2 separate regions of the Homo sapiens genome follow, and region 2 is linked to region 1. The links come from fine-mapping of genetic effects on gene expression. Tissue or cell type: whole blood. Region 1 holds a variant in brackets; the other region holds the start of a gene. All regions are shown on one strand. Distances are from middle to middle.

What was found. PIP is the estimated chance that this variant, and not a neighbour inherited with it, causes the effect.
Region 2: it holds the start of PIKFYVE, and the variant in region 1 is fine-mapped to the expression of PIKFYVE in whole blood (TOPMed, PIP above 0.99).

What each region holds. Positions count from the first base shown.
Region 1 is chr2:208,239,639-208,247,745 of GRCh38, reverse strand. IDH1 (isocitrate dehydrogenase (NADP(+)) 1) reads left to right here. Exons shown (of 10, transcript NM_005896.4): 5 at 2,322-2,427; 6 at 4,142-4,319; 7 at 5,601-5,752; 8 at 7,743-7,883. Among named protein-coding and RNA genes, the nearest start is that of IDH1, 11 kb to the left of the region's middle. The variant C/T (reference allele first, on the strand shown) is at 4,942.
Region 2 is chr2:208,263,095-208,271,201 of GRCh38, reverse strand. PIKFYVE (phosphoinositide kinase, FYVE-type zinc finger containing) reads right to left here and starts at 4,947. Exons shown (of 42, transcript NM_015040.4): 1 at 4,787-4,947. It also overlaps the pseudogene MYL6BP1. RefSeq lists enhancers at 1,226-1,727, 5,061-5,110 and a silencer at 4,661-4,930.

The sequences.
Region 1 (8,107 bases):
CACTGCTTGAGGCCAGGAGTTTGAGACTAGCCTGGACAACATAGCAGAACCCTGTCTCTACAAAAATGAAAAGTATTTCAATAATTATGTCAATTGTTCATGGAAGAGCCAGTTTTGTTTATTCATATACAAAGTGAGTAGGCGAAGCTGAGTGGGGTGGCATGTGCCTATAGTCCCAGCTACTTGGAAGGCTGAGGCCTGAGGATCCCTTAAGCCTAGGAGTTCAAGGTTACAGCTATGAGCTATGATCACACCACTGCCTACGCAACAGAGCAAGACCCTGTCTCGAAAAAGAAAAAGAAAAAAAAAACTGACTCGGTAGTTGAAAGCAGCCTTACTAAAGCATTCCTTCCTGCCTGGAAAAAAAGTATTGCTTCTTTACTTCTGTACCAGTACACTTGTTGCCAAATTAAGCAAAAAAACTGCCAAGTAAACAAAATCAAAGTTCAGTGTTGAAACTGAGGTTTCAGACTTTCACAGAAAGTAGTTTATGTCTTAAAAGGACCTTAAAAACAGGAATCTCTCATGCTGAAATCCAGAGGTTTTAATGTAGCCATCATTGAAAACAGTGTGTTGAGGGTAAACAGTTTAGTCCTTGAGGGGTCAGTTAACTTTGTTCCACTCTGTGGCTAAAACTATCCTTTCATCCTGGCCAAAGCCTTCAGAAATAGCTCCCAGGGGCCCAAGCAAGGGAAGGTAGATGGCAGTGGTGCAAACTCGCTAATCTTGTAAAAATCACCCTAGATTCTTTCCAGTTCAGTCGTGCCTTTTTTCTGCGTATATCCTTTTTGTTTTTTGTTTTTGAGACAGAGTCTCGCTCTGTCGCCCAGGCTGGAGTGCAGTGGTGTGATCTTGGCTCACTGCAACCTCTGCCTCCCGGGTTCAAGCAATTCTCCTGCCTCAGCCTCTTGAGTAGCTGGGATTACAGGCACATGCTACCATGCCCGGCTAATTTTTGTGTTTTTAGTAGAGACGGGGTTTCACCATGTTGGTCAGGCTGGTCTCAAACTCCTGACCTTGTGATCCGCCCGCCTCCGCCTCCGCCTCCCAAAGTGCTGGGATTACAGGCATGCCACCATGCCCGGCCTTCCTCTTTTTTTTTTTTTTTTTAATTATTTTGGCATCAGTCATTTGTAAAAATGGCCATTCTATTTATTAAAGTCCAGAAAGAGAATTTCAAACCTCAGGTTGATTCATGGACTGTTTAAATATACATAAACCTATACAAAGCATTTATGGTGCTTTGGTACCTCAGTTTCTCCCTTTTCAGAAATAGTAATAAATTACCACCCATATTTACTTTATGGATTTTATATGTCAAAAATGTTCTGTGTAAAGTAGGTGTTTAATCTTTATTGTTACTTACTGCTCTTTTACCAGTTGTTATTAGTATTTCTCTACACTTATAGATGTGGCCGGCACCTGCTGGTACCTAACTCTGCAAGTATCTGATTCAATTCATTGAAGAAGATACAATGCAGCAAAGACTTATGGATGTCTAGTATATGCCAGGCATATTATTCCACTGAGTAGCTGAGGCCCATGAGGGAGGTGCCTGTCCTTGAACAGCCCTTTCCTAAAAATCATCATCATCCCATTGTAGCTGCTCCCAGAATGATTTGATTGCTCCATATGAACAAGTCCTATAACACTAGTAACAATGATACCATGAGAGACCGAGCCCCGATGGCCTAAGTAAGGACGAGACCTCAAGTCCTTTGACCCTGGATGCATTATTTCTACTATATCATAGTTCCCTCCTTGTAAGACTGATGTAAGAATCAAATGAGATTATGCAAGTTAAGCATTTAAAGCATCTGGCATAGAGTAAGGACAAAGCATTAGCTACCTCAGTACTACAATTAGTATTGTTATCATCACCCTCTAGGGAGACTTCCCTGACTTCCTTCCATGGTCACCTCTTTTCCTCTGTCATCCTATAGTTTTTTTTTTTTTGGGGGGGGGGTCTAATACCCTCTTTTGGCATTTGAAAGCTCTTATATTGCTTTTCACTTATATATGTCTTTATAGGGTTGTAAACTTCCTAAAGGAAAGTGGCTTATGTTATTCTCTGTCCTCTTCAAATCAGTGCTCAGAAAACTTTCCTATACCTCGTATAGGCACCTAATAAATATTTACTGATTTAGGGGAATGTCTGGACCTCTTCATCCCCATCTCCTAAAAAAAAAAAAAAAAAAAGAAGTTTGACATACTGCCCTATTTGTCTAGGTGTCTTCTAGGTCTATATTATATGAATATTCTCCTTACAATTCCTGCTAGGGTATTTTTTTTTTCTTTATACCTTTTTCCCCTCTACACAGTACAGAGCAACTGATTTTGTTGTTCCTGGGCCTGGAAAAGTAGAGATAACCTACACACCAAGTGACGGAACCCAAAAGGTGACATACCTGGTACATAACTTTGAAGGTATGTATGACTGTAGCATAAGCTTCTTTTTTTTTTAAACAAATGATTTAGATAATATTTTTATTGCTTTTTTTGTTAGTTATGTGACTGCCTAAAAATATAATCTGAATCTACAGTGTTTTTGCAAAACCCGAAACTTGACATAAAGAAGTAATTTGCTTCCATACCTTCCTGTGGCATGAATAAAGGCACAAAAGGGTTACCCACTTAATTGGAAATGCCTTTAGGCAAAGACAAGGAGATGATTATGCATTTATCTTAAAGCACAGAGAGAAGGTTGGCAGAAATCTGCTGTGCATGAATTATATACATTAAATATTAATATTCTCAAATCACCCAGCATATAATCCTGCCCTTTGCTCTGGTAGGGCTCTTGTATCTGGAAGAGGTTTCCTTATATATTTGCTGAAGTTTTCTTCTTGCCCTTCTGGGTATTTATCCTGTGAAAAAGTAGAACATTTGCTTTTTGCCTTTTCTTTCCCAGCTACCCTGCTACCTTTGATGGCAAATCCCACCCAAAAGTTGTTGAAATAATTAGTGGGCCCTTTTCCTTCACTATTGAAGTTGTTGAAAGCACTCACACAAACAAAAATACCCAACACTCACCTACCTTTTGTTTTTCTTGCCTCTTCCAAATAATATCTGTTGGAATCTGGTTCTGCAGGCTTCAGCACCTTTCACCCTGAACCCAAGTTAACCCTGAGCATTGGCATGGATTCAAGTTCTATCTTTAAGTAATAACAAAGTTCAATAATAGTTGTAAAACACAGTGATTACATGTAGCATAATTATTTCTACTTATTTCTACCAACTACAGTAGGAGTGCTCAGTATCCTCCAGGAGATTATAAGAATTTTCATTCAGTATTTGAAATTTAAGTTTTTCTCAATAACTGAGGATTGAGTACACCCCTAAAGTTTAAAATAGATGTTGGGAATTGTAAAGGTAGGGTGTTTGTCCATTCTTGCGTTGCTATAAAGAAATACCTGAGGCTGCGTAAGTTATAAAGAAAAGAGGTTTAATTGGCTCATGGTTCTGCAGGCTGTACAAGCCTGGCTCCAACACCTGTTCCTGGTGAGGGCCTCAGGAAGCTTCCAATCTTGGCAGAAGGCAAACAGACAATAGGTGTATCACATGGCAAGAGCGGGAACAAGAGAAAGAGAAGGGGGAGGTCCCAGACTCTTAAACAACCAGATTTCAAGTGAATTAACTGAGCGAGAACTCACGTAATCACCAAAGGGGATGGTCCTAAGCCATTCATAAGGGATCCAACCCCATGTTCCAATCTCCTCCCACTGGGCCCCACCTCCAACACTGGGAATCACATTTCAACATGAGATTTGGAAGGGACAAATATCCAAACCATATCAGTATGTAAAAGAAGTTTCAAAATTATTTGCCTTTTCTTAAATGTATTTCTGGTTCATATCAGTTTTTGGCATTTCTGCATCTTCAGGATTTTAAAGACTGTATGTTTTTTCATTTCTGCTGTCCTTCCAAAACAAGTTAGAATGTCCTTATCTAGAACTGGCTTTTCTCTCATTATGTGCCTCAGAAATTTGTTGGAAACCTGTCTGGGACTTCTGAAATCTAGTCTCAGATGTGAGAGCTGAGAAGTAGGTCATTTGGTTGTGGTGGGTGATTTTAGCCTTATTACAACTACATTACATTTATTCTTCTCCCTTTTTTCCTCTCACTGGCTTCTCCTCTACAGAAGGTGGTGGTGTTGCCATGGGGATGTATAATCAAGATAAGTCAATTGAAGATTTTGCACACAGTTCCTTCCAAATGGCTCTGTCTAAGGGTTGGCCTTTGTATCTGAGCACCAAAAACACTATTCTGAAGAAATATGATGGGCGTTTTAAAGACATCTTTCAGGAGATATATGACAAGTAACTATAGTTCTTTTTTAACTTTTTCTTTATTCTCAAGTAAGCTGACATTTGCATATAGAGTATGTATCTCCCTATCCCTATGATTCTGGGTAAATTGAGTGAAAATCATCACTGTCTCTTAAAGATAAGGGCAAAACTGAGGTTTAGCAGGAGTGAAACAAAACCACTCTGACTTGCTTTTATAAGATAAACATGTTCTTAAATAAGGTCCCCACATGAATTGTTTTCAGAGCCAGGTTCTTTAATGTTTAAATAAACGTACGCTGTTAGTGATAAGTTCTAATTTTTCATGTGTGAGTTTCTAAGTCAGACCCATTTCCATTCTTTCTGAAGCCCATTGTTAGAATTTAAAATTCTGTTGGCCAGGCACGGTGGCTCATGCCTGTAATCCCAGCACTTTGGGAGGCCGAGGCGGGCGGATCACGAGGTCAGGAGATCGAGACCATCCTGGCTAACACGGTGAAACCCTGACTCTACTAAAAATACCAAAAATTAGCCGGGCGTGGTGGCGGGCGCCTCTAGTCCCAGTTACTGGGGAGGCTGAGGCAGGAGAATGGCGTGAACCCGGGAGGCGGAGGTTGCAGTGAGCCGAAATCACGCCACTGCACTGCAGCCTGGG[C/T]GACAGAGCGAGACTCCGTCTCAAAAAAAAAAAAAGAAAAGAAAAGAAAAAAAAGAATTTAAAATTCTGTTTTAGTGGAGTCATTTGAACTTAAGTCTAAGTTTATAACAACACTGGCTTCCACAGCACAGGAGGTGAGCATGTGTTAATATTTAAGATTGGCATAACTCCCTTTAGGTGCAAGTGTTCAGGCCAAAATGTTCCTGAGGCATTTTGATTCCTCCTCCTGCTGCCCATCTATACCAAGCCCAGAAACTGTCTGGAATATATTTTAGTTTCCTGAATGACACCAAGAAGTAGAACAGTCTTTTCAAAAATGTATTTTAAAAATAAGCTGAATCTCAAGAATCTGATCTATAGTATAATGAAAACTGAAAAGTGAAGTAGTCATTGGGATACTCTACTGTCTCACTTAATTCTCACGGCTTCCCTGCAAGGTGGGTAAAATTGTTCCTACAGATAGTCAAATTGAGTTTTACAGTTAGAAAATGATTGGGCTAGGATTTGAGCCAATGTCTGTCAGATTCCTGAGTTTCTGCTACTTCTACTAAAATATGCTGCTTCTTGTGTGTCCGGTCTTCTGTTTGGGACAAGCAGATGATATCCCTAACAAAATCAATTTTCTTTATTATTATTCTCTTTTACCTTTTGTTTCCCAGGCAGTACAAGTCCCAGTTTGAAGCTCAAAAGATCTGGTATGAGCATAGGCTCATCGACGACATGGTGGCCCAAGCTATGAAATCAGAGGGAGGCTTCATCTGGGCCTGTAAAAACTATGATGGTGACGTGCAGTCGGACTCTGTGGCCCAAGGTACAGAGGTGGAGCCTGGCCTGTAGGAACAGGGTCATTCCAGGGTAGTTCTCTAATTTGGGAAGGGGAGTTTTGTAGTCCTTTGTTGTAAAATCTTGGAATGTTAAACCTCCAGGTCCACCGTCTTACCTGACAGCTAAGGAAATTAAGCTCAGACTAGAGAAATGATTTACTCAAGACCACATGGGAAGTAAATTAGTGGATTGACACTCCTGGCTCCAGTGTCACTCCTTGAAGTTTTAAAGCCTACCTGATCTGAAAATCACTCCCTTTCCCTGCCCTCCTTGTCCTTTGGTGAAAATGTAAAAAACCAGGGCACTCAGGCAAGGAGGGATAAAGTGAGGAGCTTGATCATGTCATAACCAAGCTTTGGTGCCTGCAAAGCTCATTTATTGGGCAGCAGGACCTACTCATGTCCCTCTGCCAGCTGCTGTTCTGGTAGAATATAAAACAAATGTGTTTGGCTGGGCACAGTGGCTCACGCCTGTAATCCTAGCACTTTGAGAGGCCAAGGCAGTGGATCACTTGAGGCCAGGAGTTCAAGACCAGCCTGGCCAACATAGCAAAACCCCATCTCTACTTCAAAAAAAAAAAAAAAAAAAAATTAGCCAGGTGTGGTCGCATGCCTATAGTCCCTGGCACTCAGGAGGCTAAAGCATGAGAATTTCTTGAGCCTGGGAAGCGGAGGTTGCAGTGAGCTGAGATCACGCCACTATACTCCAGCCTGGGCAACAGAGCAAGACTCTTGTCTCAACAACAACAAAGAAAAAGTGTTTTTGTTTACTGCTTAGCTTACACACAAATCAATTGAGCAAAGAACCCTAGGGGCTGTTTACAGAAATTCCAGGAGAAGTTTCATGCATGGGGTAAGGGCCAAATCAACAGAAACACAGCGCCTGGTTTCCTCAGCACCAAGTTGCCCTTCAGTTTCAGTTGCCCTTGGTAGCTGTATGAACTTGAATCTCCCCAGATGAATGTTTGTTAACTTTAATTATGTTTGTTTTTCCCAAGAAGTACTACTTTTTCTGTCTCTTATCAGTGTTAAACATCTCCTCTCAGTTTGAAAATCAGTAGATCAACCTGGTTAAAGATAACTTTTTGCCAGATAAATGAGTTACACAACTCTCCTTACCATCCTTCTGTTTCTCTACATCCTCACAATCATTTGTACTGAATGCAACAGAGGAAGGAGTGTTATTGCTTTGTGATGACTCCGTGGTTGATTATTAACTTCACAGGTGATGTTGGGAGGTAGCAAAAATGGAGAAAAGAAGAAAATCAATTATATAGATATAAGAGTTGTAATGTGGTTCTTTCAATAAGAAACCACAGAAGAGAACTGTTGTACTGAGGGTATGAAAGAGAGCGAGGAAGGGCAACTGGGATGTTCTTAGATCCAACCGATCCTGTGTTTACCTGCCTTCTCTTCCCAGTCCCAGCAAGTGTATGAGCAGCTTGAGGGTTCTTAAGAGACAGCTCTCGTCCATCTTTATTTCCCCAGAACAGCAGAGCATTGCACATAAGAATAACAATAATAGATTGAGCTCTGTGTCCAGTACTATTCTAAGGAATATAAATATATATTCATATATATTTATGAATATATGTATATTTATCTAATCCCACAGCAACCTAGTGAAGTAGGTGCTGTTATTACTCCCATTTTACAGATAAGAAAACTGAGCCGCAGTAGCTATGAAGTCATAGAACTAGAGTGGAATGTAGGCAGTTGGACCCTGAACCCTCCATCAAGGAGTAGGTATCCCTGAAATAAGTGAGGGGAAAATGCAGCCTTTCCAGACCCATTGGCTCTGATATCTGGAGCGGGGATCCTGCCTTCTGAAAGGCAGAATTATTGGTGATTCCATGTGCTCTTGTTTACTTTGCTTACCAAGACCTATCAAGATTGAGTCATTTATGCTCTCATCTCTGAGAGACTCAGTGCTCTTCATGCAGTTGGACCCAACGCTTCATGCTCCACTACTTACAGGGTATGGCTCTCTCGGCATGATGACCAGCGTGCTGGTTTGTCCAGATGGCAAGACAGTAGAAGCAGAGGCTGCCCACGGGACTGTAACCCGTCACTACCGCATGTACCAGAAAGGACAGGAGACGTCCACCAATCCCATTGGTAAGATGGTGTTTACATTGATTTCTCACCAGAGAGTGCTCTCCAAAGCAGCCCAGATGTGTTCCCTTGGCTGCTCAGTGTTTTGTGTGCAAAGTCATCACCAAGTAGCTGATTTGTTCTACTAGTAAGATCTATTTGAATATGCTTCTTAAAATATACAATATTTGCTTTTCTGTTTTGTGGGAGAACATAGGTTACAGAGAGGAATGTTATCAACAAGCATT
Region 2 (8,107 bases), 23 kb before region 1:
AAAAATAAGCATTTTCACATCATTTCTAGCTCTTTCATTTTAAGATGTTTCGGAAGAAGGGATACACAACAGCTTTTTAAAGTTATGGGGGGAAGCTAGTTATACAACACACACATAAATTCTTCAGTCTTATTTTCCTTATTTCAACTTTTTTTTTTTTTTTTTGGAGATGGAGTCTTGCTCTGTCGCCCAGACTGGAGTGCAGTGGCGTGATCCTGGCTCACTGCAACCTCCACCTCCCAGGTTCAAGTGATCCTCCTGCCTCAGCCTCCTGAGTAGCTGGGACTATAGGTGCGCAGTCACCACGCCCAGTTAATTTTTTGTATTTTCAGTAGAGATGGGGTTTCACCATGTTGGCCAGGCTGGTCTCCAACTCCTGACTTCAGGTAATCCACCCGCCTCAGCCTCCCAAAGTGCTGGGATTACAGGCATGAGCCACCATGCCTGGCCTCAACTTTTATATTTTAAAAAGTAATATAAAAATCATTATATTTCTAAGACGAGGACATGAAAGTCATTCTCTAATGACATGTCTACAAAACTTTAACAATTACCTCAAGCTACACTTCATGACCTATGACAACTACTCAAATCAACAAGTTGTTCCCCACTATCTTTGCTCCTAAACACATGAACCTGGTTTTTCCTCCCTTTAAGCCTCAATTCATAGACATTAAGATGAAGATCTTCTTAAAGGGCTTTGTTTCTAAATAACCAAAAAATCATATTTCAACCAAAGCAATAAAGCTAACCACATCACCAGATGGAAGTTACAGAAAAGTACTATTTTCTGCCATATTGATTTATATTTCAAAGAGAAGAACCATGGATAACTCTAATCATTAAAATAATGTAGACTGGTCCAGGCACGGTGGCTCACACCTATAATCCCAGCACTTTGGGAGGCCGAAGTGGACGGATCACCTGAAGTCAGGAGTTCGAGACCAGCCTGGCCAACATGGTGAAACCCCATCTCTACCAAAAATACAAAAATTAGCTGGACATGGTGGCGGGTACCTGTAATCCCAGCTACTCAGGAGGCTGAGGCAGGAGAATCGCTGGAACCCAGGAGGCGGAGGTTACAGCGAGCCGATCACGCCACTGCACTCCAGCCTGGGCAATAAGAGCAAAACTCCATCCACAAAAAAAAAAAAAAAAAAAAAATACTGTAGTCTGGCCCAGACACGGACCCTGCAAGAGATGGGTGCCCCCATCCGCACACTGTCCTTTGGCCACCAGACATCATGCCTCCCAAGGATATTCTGGGAGGAACCAGCAGGGCCCTCCATCTCCAAAGGTGCTGCCAAGCCAGCAGCAGCATGGGCCCCTCCAGCCAAGACCAAAGCTGAGCCAGCTATCCCATCCCCCAGGCCCCTGAGAAAACCAAGGAGCCCCCAGTTGATCTCTCCAAAGTGGTGATCAAGTTTAACAAGGATCAGCTGGAGGAGTTCAAGGTGGCCTTCAAGCTGTTTAACTGAGTGGGGGATGGCAAGATCCCATACAGCCAGTTTGGGGACATGATGGGGGCCCTGGACCAGAACCTCACCAGTGCCAAGGTGATGAAGGTCCTGGGGAACCCCAAGAGTGATGACCTGAAGTCCCGGCATGTGGACTTCAAGACTTTCCTGCCCATGCTCCAGGCAGCAGCCAAGAAGCAGAACCAAGGCACATATGAGGACTACCTGGAGGGGCTTCATGTGTTAGTCAAGGAGGGGAACAGCAAAGTCACGGGAGCAGAGCTCAGACAAGTCCTCACCACCCTGGGAGGGAAGATGGCTGAGGAGGAGATGGAGACTGTTCTGGCAGGACATGAGGACAGCATCAACTAGGAGGCCTTCCTGAAACACTTCCTAAGCCTACTGAGCTCTGTAGATCCCTAGGGCCCAGACAATGGGCCCCCTGCAGGCAGAAGCATGTTCCAGCCACCAGGAGGCTACCTACTGTTTCAAAATAAAGACAAGGTTCCTCCCTTGGAGAAAACAATATATATACTATAGTTTATAATCTAGTCTCCACTTTACAAAGAGGACATTACAGTCTCGGTAAAATGCTTTTCACATTCAAAATCATAGCTACCATCTCATTTTACTCTTACAATCCTGGAAGGCACACACAGCTGGCTTTATGACATTTTACCTTTGAGGCAACCAAGGTACTCTGAACCTAAAACAACTTTCTTGGGGGTCACACAGACATTAGTAGAACTGTCACTATACCCCAAGTCTCACCCCAAAAGTATTACCTAAATCAAAATTACTTTTGTAGCTCTTCACACTTCCCTTTTAGCCTATCCGCGTTCTCTAACTACTTAAGGCTTTGTCTGATCAATAATTTAATTAATAAATTAAGGCAGAAATGAAACCACTGACTTAAACAGAATTTTGGCAATACATGTTTATTGGGGGGGGAAGAAAAAGAGGAAGAGGAAGGGGAAGGAAAGAGGAAGGAGAAAAGGAAGAAGAAGGGGAAGGAAGGTTTCTAATATCTTCCACTGAGAATAATCATCAACAATCCTTCTGAAGTGTCATGACAATTCAGCAAAAAGTGTTGGGAAGTAAGCTGATAACTGAATAAGTATACACTCAAAAAAAAGTTTGTGTTTTTTTTATATTAAAAAAAAAAAGAGGCCAGGCACTGTGGCCTCATGTCTGTAATCCCAGCACTTTAGGAGGCTGAGACGGGAGGATCGCTTGAGGCCAGGAGTTCCAGACCAGCCTAGTCAACATAGCGAGACTTCATCTCTATTTTATTTAGGGAAAAAAAAAAAAAAAAAAAAAAGAGCTCTGGAGAGAAACGATAATGTGATGGCCGTAACAACCACCCCTGGAAAACAGCCTACATTCTACTTTGACACAAGTAATGTCAGAGGCAGAGATGACATTCTGCCTAAAGAGTCTTAGAATTACTTCTAAAGGTTATCTACACAAAAATTATACTCGGCTTTGGAAATAAGAAGATAAAAATTCCCATGAAAACACTTAGCAAGTGTAGTCTCTGAAATATAAACCCAATCATATAGTTAACCCTAATAATTACATAATGACACTAGGGCCCTGAAAAAATTATCTTATAACTCTCACTCTTTAGCAGCTTAACAACGCTTTAAAATATAAATTAGGACTCTTTCCTGAGTGGTAATCAGTCCTATTAACCTACCTACCCAAAGCCTTCTGATATATCACCAATACTTCACCATTTCTAATTAAGGCTACTAATATATGCAGACCTACTACAAACTATCAGAAGCCAGTCAGTAAAGGCCGGACGTGGCTGCTCACACCTGTGATCCCAGCACTTTGGGAGGCCGAGGCAGGAGAATCCCTTGAGCCTGGGAGGCGGAGACTGCAGTAAGCCGAGATCACACCACTTCACTCCAGCCTGGGCGAGGGAGGGAGACCCCCGCCCGGTGGCTCACGCCTGTAATCCCAGCACCTTGGGAGGCCGAGGCGGGTGAATCGCCTGAGGTCAGGAATTCAAAACCAGCTTCGCTAACATGGTGAAACCCCGTCTCCCCTAAAAATACAAAAATTAGCCGAGTGTGGTGTCGCGCGCCTGCAATCTAGCTACTCAGGAGGCTGAGGCAGGAGAATCGCCTGAACCCTGGGAGGCGGAGGTTGCAGTCGGAGGAGATCGCGCCACTGCACTCCAACCTGGGGGACAGAGCGAGACTCTGTCTCTCAAAAAAAAAAAAAAAAAAAACTGGCAATGTAATAATTTAGGAAAGCTGAATATTGGAAATGTTAGCTTCTATCAACAAAGATTTCTTGTTCAATTTTTGACCAACACGCTTAAAGGAAAACCAGAGCAGGATCCAGAAAGCAGAAAAAGGGAGAACACAGGAAATTAGCCTTGCTCCACAGAAGAGATTTAACCTACACAATCTTTGTCACAAACACAAAAGAAAGAACATTTTTTGTAAGAAAACTGACAGAGTGGGAGTTTTGGAGTGCCAAAAAAGGGGCTCAAATAAATCAGAAATAAGTACATTATACCAAGCGACTACCTCTATTGTCAACACTGGACATATTTTACAACACAGGATGCACTGCGTCAATAGTAGATAATGAATCATGTATACACATCAGATACACACGAATAACTTGCTTTATACAGAATTCTAGCACTTCTTATATTTCTTGACTGTCTTAGGAATAACCTCTGATTGGGCAGAAAACCCCTAAGTCCTAAAAGTTTCCAACACATTCCATTCTCATCCTTTTGTTGGGAACATTCTAAGCAAAGGGTAAACACTAATTGGGAAATAATGCTCCTCCTCAAGAAACTCCAAAACCTAAGTTGAAATGGAATCGTCTCAAATAGCAGAGGCAAGCATTTAAAAAGACAAACACTTATTTGAACCCCCACGGTTGGTATCGTTTCTGCAGCTCATGAACTTTCTTTTCCAGCCTACGGATGCGCCTCTGACAAACTCAGAACTCATGCACTCAGAGGGAAAAGTAACTGTACTCTTCCCCTCCTAATTAAGTTCAGGCGTAAGGGTCGAGAGAGAGGCAAAGGAACTTCAAATGTTTCCAAGGAAATCTCAAGGGCCCCACCCGGCTTCCGTCCCCACTCGCCAGACAAGGCAGCCGGGGAATAGGGAGGACAAGCTAATTCTAAAGCCAGATTCTCTGCCCTTCCTTGCTCAGCCGGCAGCCAGGCCCTAGCCCCCGACTGCGGAGCCCTGGTTCTCACTTTCACCTCAGCTCTGGCCCTGGAGCTCCCCATACCGGCCTCCTTCCCATGCTGAGCCCCAGCCGGCCAAGCTCCAGGCCCCCTCCCTTACCTGCGCCTCCTGCCCCGGCCGCGCCGGCTGCCCCCCGCCCCAGCCTCCGCTTCAACGGCTCAGCCCCCGGAAGTCGGCCCCCGAGAGCGGCGGTGGGCTCCTCAGGCCGCGGACGGTTGCGGCAGGAAGCGAAGCTGCTTACATGGTTGATGCGGCTTCTCGCTTCCCCCCCCCAAGACTCCGCCCTCTGTTTTCCTGTCCCCCAGTCCGAAATCTTTCCCGGGGGCCGGCTCCTCCCAGCCCGGCCGACGCTCGGATCAGATGCTCAGGCAGAAGGAGTCCAGCCCAGATCGAGTCGTCCTGATCTTTTGGCCGAGATTAGGCCGCTTCAGCCTTCCTGGAAGAAGCCAGGGGGACTGCGCGCGTGAGCGTCACGCATGCGGGGTCAACGGATGGGTGCTTGGTGCTCTGGGCACTGCAGGGGTGCTGGCTGGACTGCGGTTACCGTATGTGTTCGATACTGTGGGCACTCATAATATGTTATTGCTTTGTTGTAGACAGTTCACTCGTGTAGCACTGAACCGGAGTTAGCGATGACTCTGTTTCCAGACTTGCATGACTCCACCAATAACCAGCCATATGATCTTAAGCAAATTGCTCATTTATTTAGGCCTTAGACCTCTGGTGTGTAAAGTCGGATTAATAAAAGGACTCACTTCTTAATACTTTTTTGAGATTAAGTAAATGCACTTAAAGCGAATGGCACAGTTCCCTGACCCAGAGTAAGTGATGTCGGCTTTATAGTTAATTTTTTCATTTAGGTGTTGTGTTGCAAATGCTGATGCAAATAAAGTTACCAAGCCCAAGCCCTATCTTGTTCAGCTTGGCTAGAGTTATTCGTCATTTCTGTCCTGCTGAGAGCGCAGTGCAGTTAACTGCAGAAAACATGCTCGCCGCAGTTGTGGGGCTTGGTAGGGGAGGATGGAAAGCAGACGAAACCTAAAGGGAAATGCAGTTTTAAATTCTGTGAGTCCTTTTCCTCAAGAGTTTTGTCAAATCCCAGCCCAGTTTTCCTGGAGTTGGAAAGCACCATCGAAACCTGCAGGTTGAGTCCAGTGCAAATCCCAGTCACCATCCTCAGCTGGGCCCTTCAGCAATCTTTCTGGGAGTCTGTAGTCAGCTTCTCCCATTCCTTATTACTGCTGCGTCAGACCACCACCACGACCCCCACATTACCTTGACCATCATTCTCATCAGAGAATCATATTTTATACCCACGTGAAAAATCCCAAGGTATCTGGGCGTGACCCTTAACAAGCTAATTCCCCACACACCACAACATTTACCTACATCCACATCTGCCCTGGTCTGCCTTTCTCCCTCATCTCTCTGAGGAAGGGGCCTCTTCTTCCCCAGCTCAATCCTTTTGGCCCCCAATTCACCCTCTCCTGTCTGGGAGCTTGCACCGTATCTGCAACCTCCCCTTTTCCAATGACTCTGCCTCCTCAGCCCATAAAGATGCTCAAGTCTCTGCCTTCCTTTAAAAAAATTTTTTTTAAAAATTTAAGATAAGCAAAAAAGGCCCTCGTAATTATCACCCTATGTTAATATTTCATAAACCTACAATAAAGTATGAAATAGGTACAGAGATCATATGAAAAGAATAAATTGCCCAGCCACGACGACTGCAGTGTATGTAGAAACTCCATCTATGGTTTAAAAAAAAAAAAAAAAAGTGCACTCCGCAAATATTTTTGAGTCCCTAATTTAACCTGCAGTGTGTTAGTTATAGAAGCACTACACTAAGGATAGAATTATGAACGTATCCCACTGCTTCACTTGACTAGCCTAAAAAATAAAAATATATGTGAACATTACACAGTCCATGTCCTCAAGAAGCTTACCGTCTAATATCTATATTAGCTTACAGTTTAATTTCTGTGGAAAAGAGATTGAAAACTGGGCTACTGTTTTTGCAAAAGAAATCATTTTAGATTCTCACTTCACACTAGACATCCAAAATTAATTCCAGATGAATTTTATCTGTAGAGAGATTATTTGTCTGTGTATATATCCTCCTCAAAAACTTTCATTCAAGCACAGATTTAGGATTCTTGCTGAATCAATTATTGTTCGATGATATTATACTTCTATTCCTCTGTATGTATTAGTTGAATTTTACTGCAACTAATAGCGTTCCATCTTTTTCTTTCTTTCTTTATATTGGTTAGTATGACTTTGGACTCATTTTTTTCCAACATGTTATAGTTCATTACTGCCACTATTCATTTCTGTGCTCCAGGTGTCCCCGCCTTGGCTGGTGTGAGCCCCTTCCAGCAGACTCCTGAGTCCATTTGACATGCCTCCATTACCTTTTGAGCACATCTTACTTTTTGTTCTTTTTCTCTCTCCGCCACCCCTTACCCCTGGCAACCACCATTCTACCCACTACTTCTATGAGTTCAACATTTTTAAATTCCATATATATGAGATCTTGTGGTATATTTCTGTGTCTGGTTTATTTCACTTAACATAATGTCCCCAGGTTCATCCATGTTGTCACAAAAGACAGAATTTCCTTATTTTTTAAGGCTGAATAATGTTCCACCGTATATATATACCACATTTTATTTTATTTTTTTGACATGGAGTCTGTCACCAAGGCTGGAGTACAGTGGTGCAATCTGGGCTTACTGCAATCTCCACCCTCTGCCCCAACCCCCCCGACCTCCACCCCACCCCTATTCTCCTGCCTCAGCCTCCCGAGTAGCTGGGATTACAGGCGCCTGTCACTGCACCTGGCTAATTTTTGTATTTTTAGTAGAGACGGGGTTTCACTGTCTTGGCCAGGCTGGTCTTGAACCCCTGACCTCGTGATCCACCTGCCTCAGCCTCCCAAAGTGCTGGGATTACCGGCGTGAGCCACAGTGCCCAGCCCCACATTTTCTTTATTCAGTTGTTCATTGATGGACACTTAGGTTGATTTCATATCTTGGCTATTGTGAATAATGCTGCAATAAAGATGGGAGTGCAGATACCTCTTAAAAATAGTGATTTTGGCTGGACACGGTGGCTCGCGCCTGTAATCCTAGCACTTTGGGAGGCCAAGATGGAAGGATTGCTTGAAGCCAGGAGTTCAACACCAGCCTGGTCAACATAGCAAGACCCCATCTCTATAAAAAGATTTTTTTTAATTTCAATAAAAGAAAAAATAGTGATTTTATTTCCTTTGGATATATACCCTGTAGTGGGATGGCTGGATCACATGATAGTTTTATTTTTAAATTTTTTGGCAACTTCCATACTGTTTTCCATAATGGCTGTACTAATTTGCATTCCTACCAACAGTGTGCAAGGGTTTCCTTTTCTCTATTTTCTCTC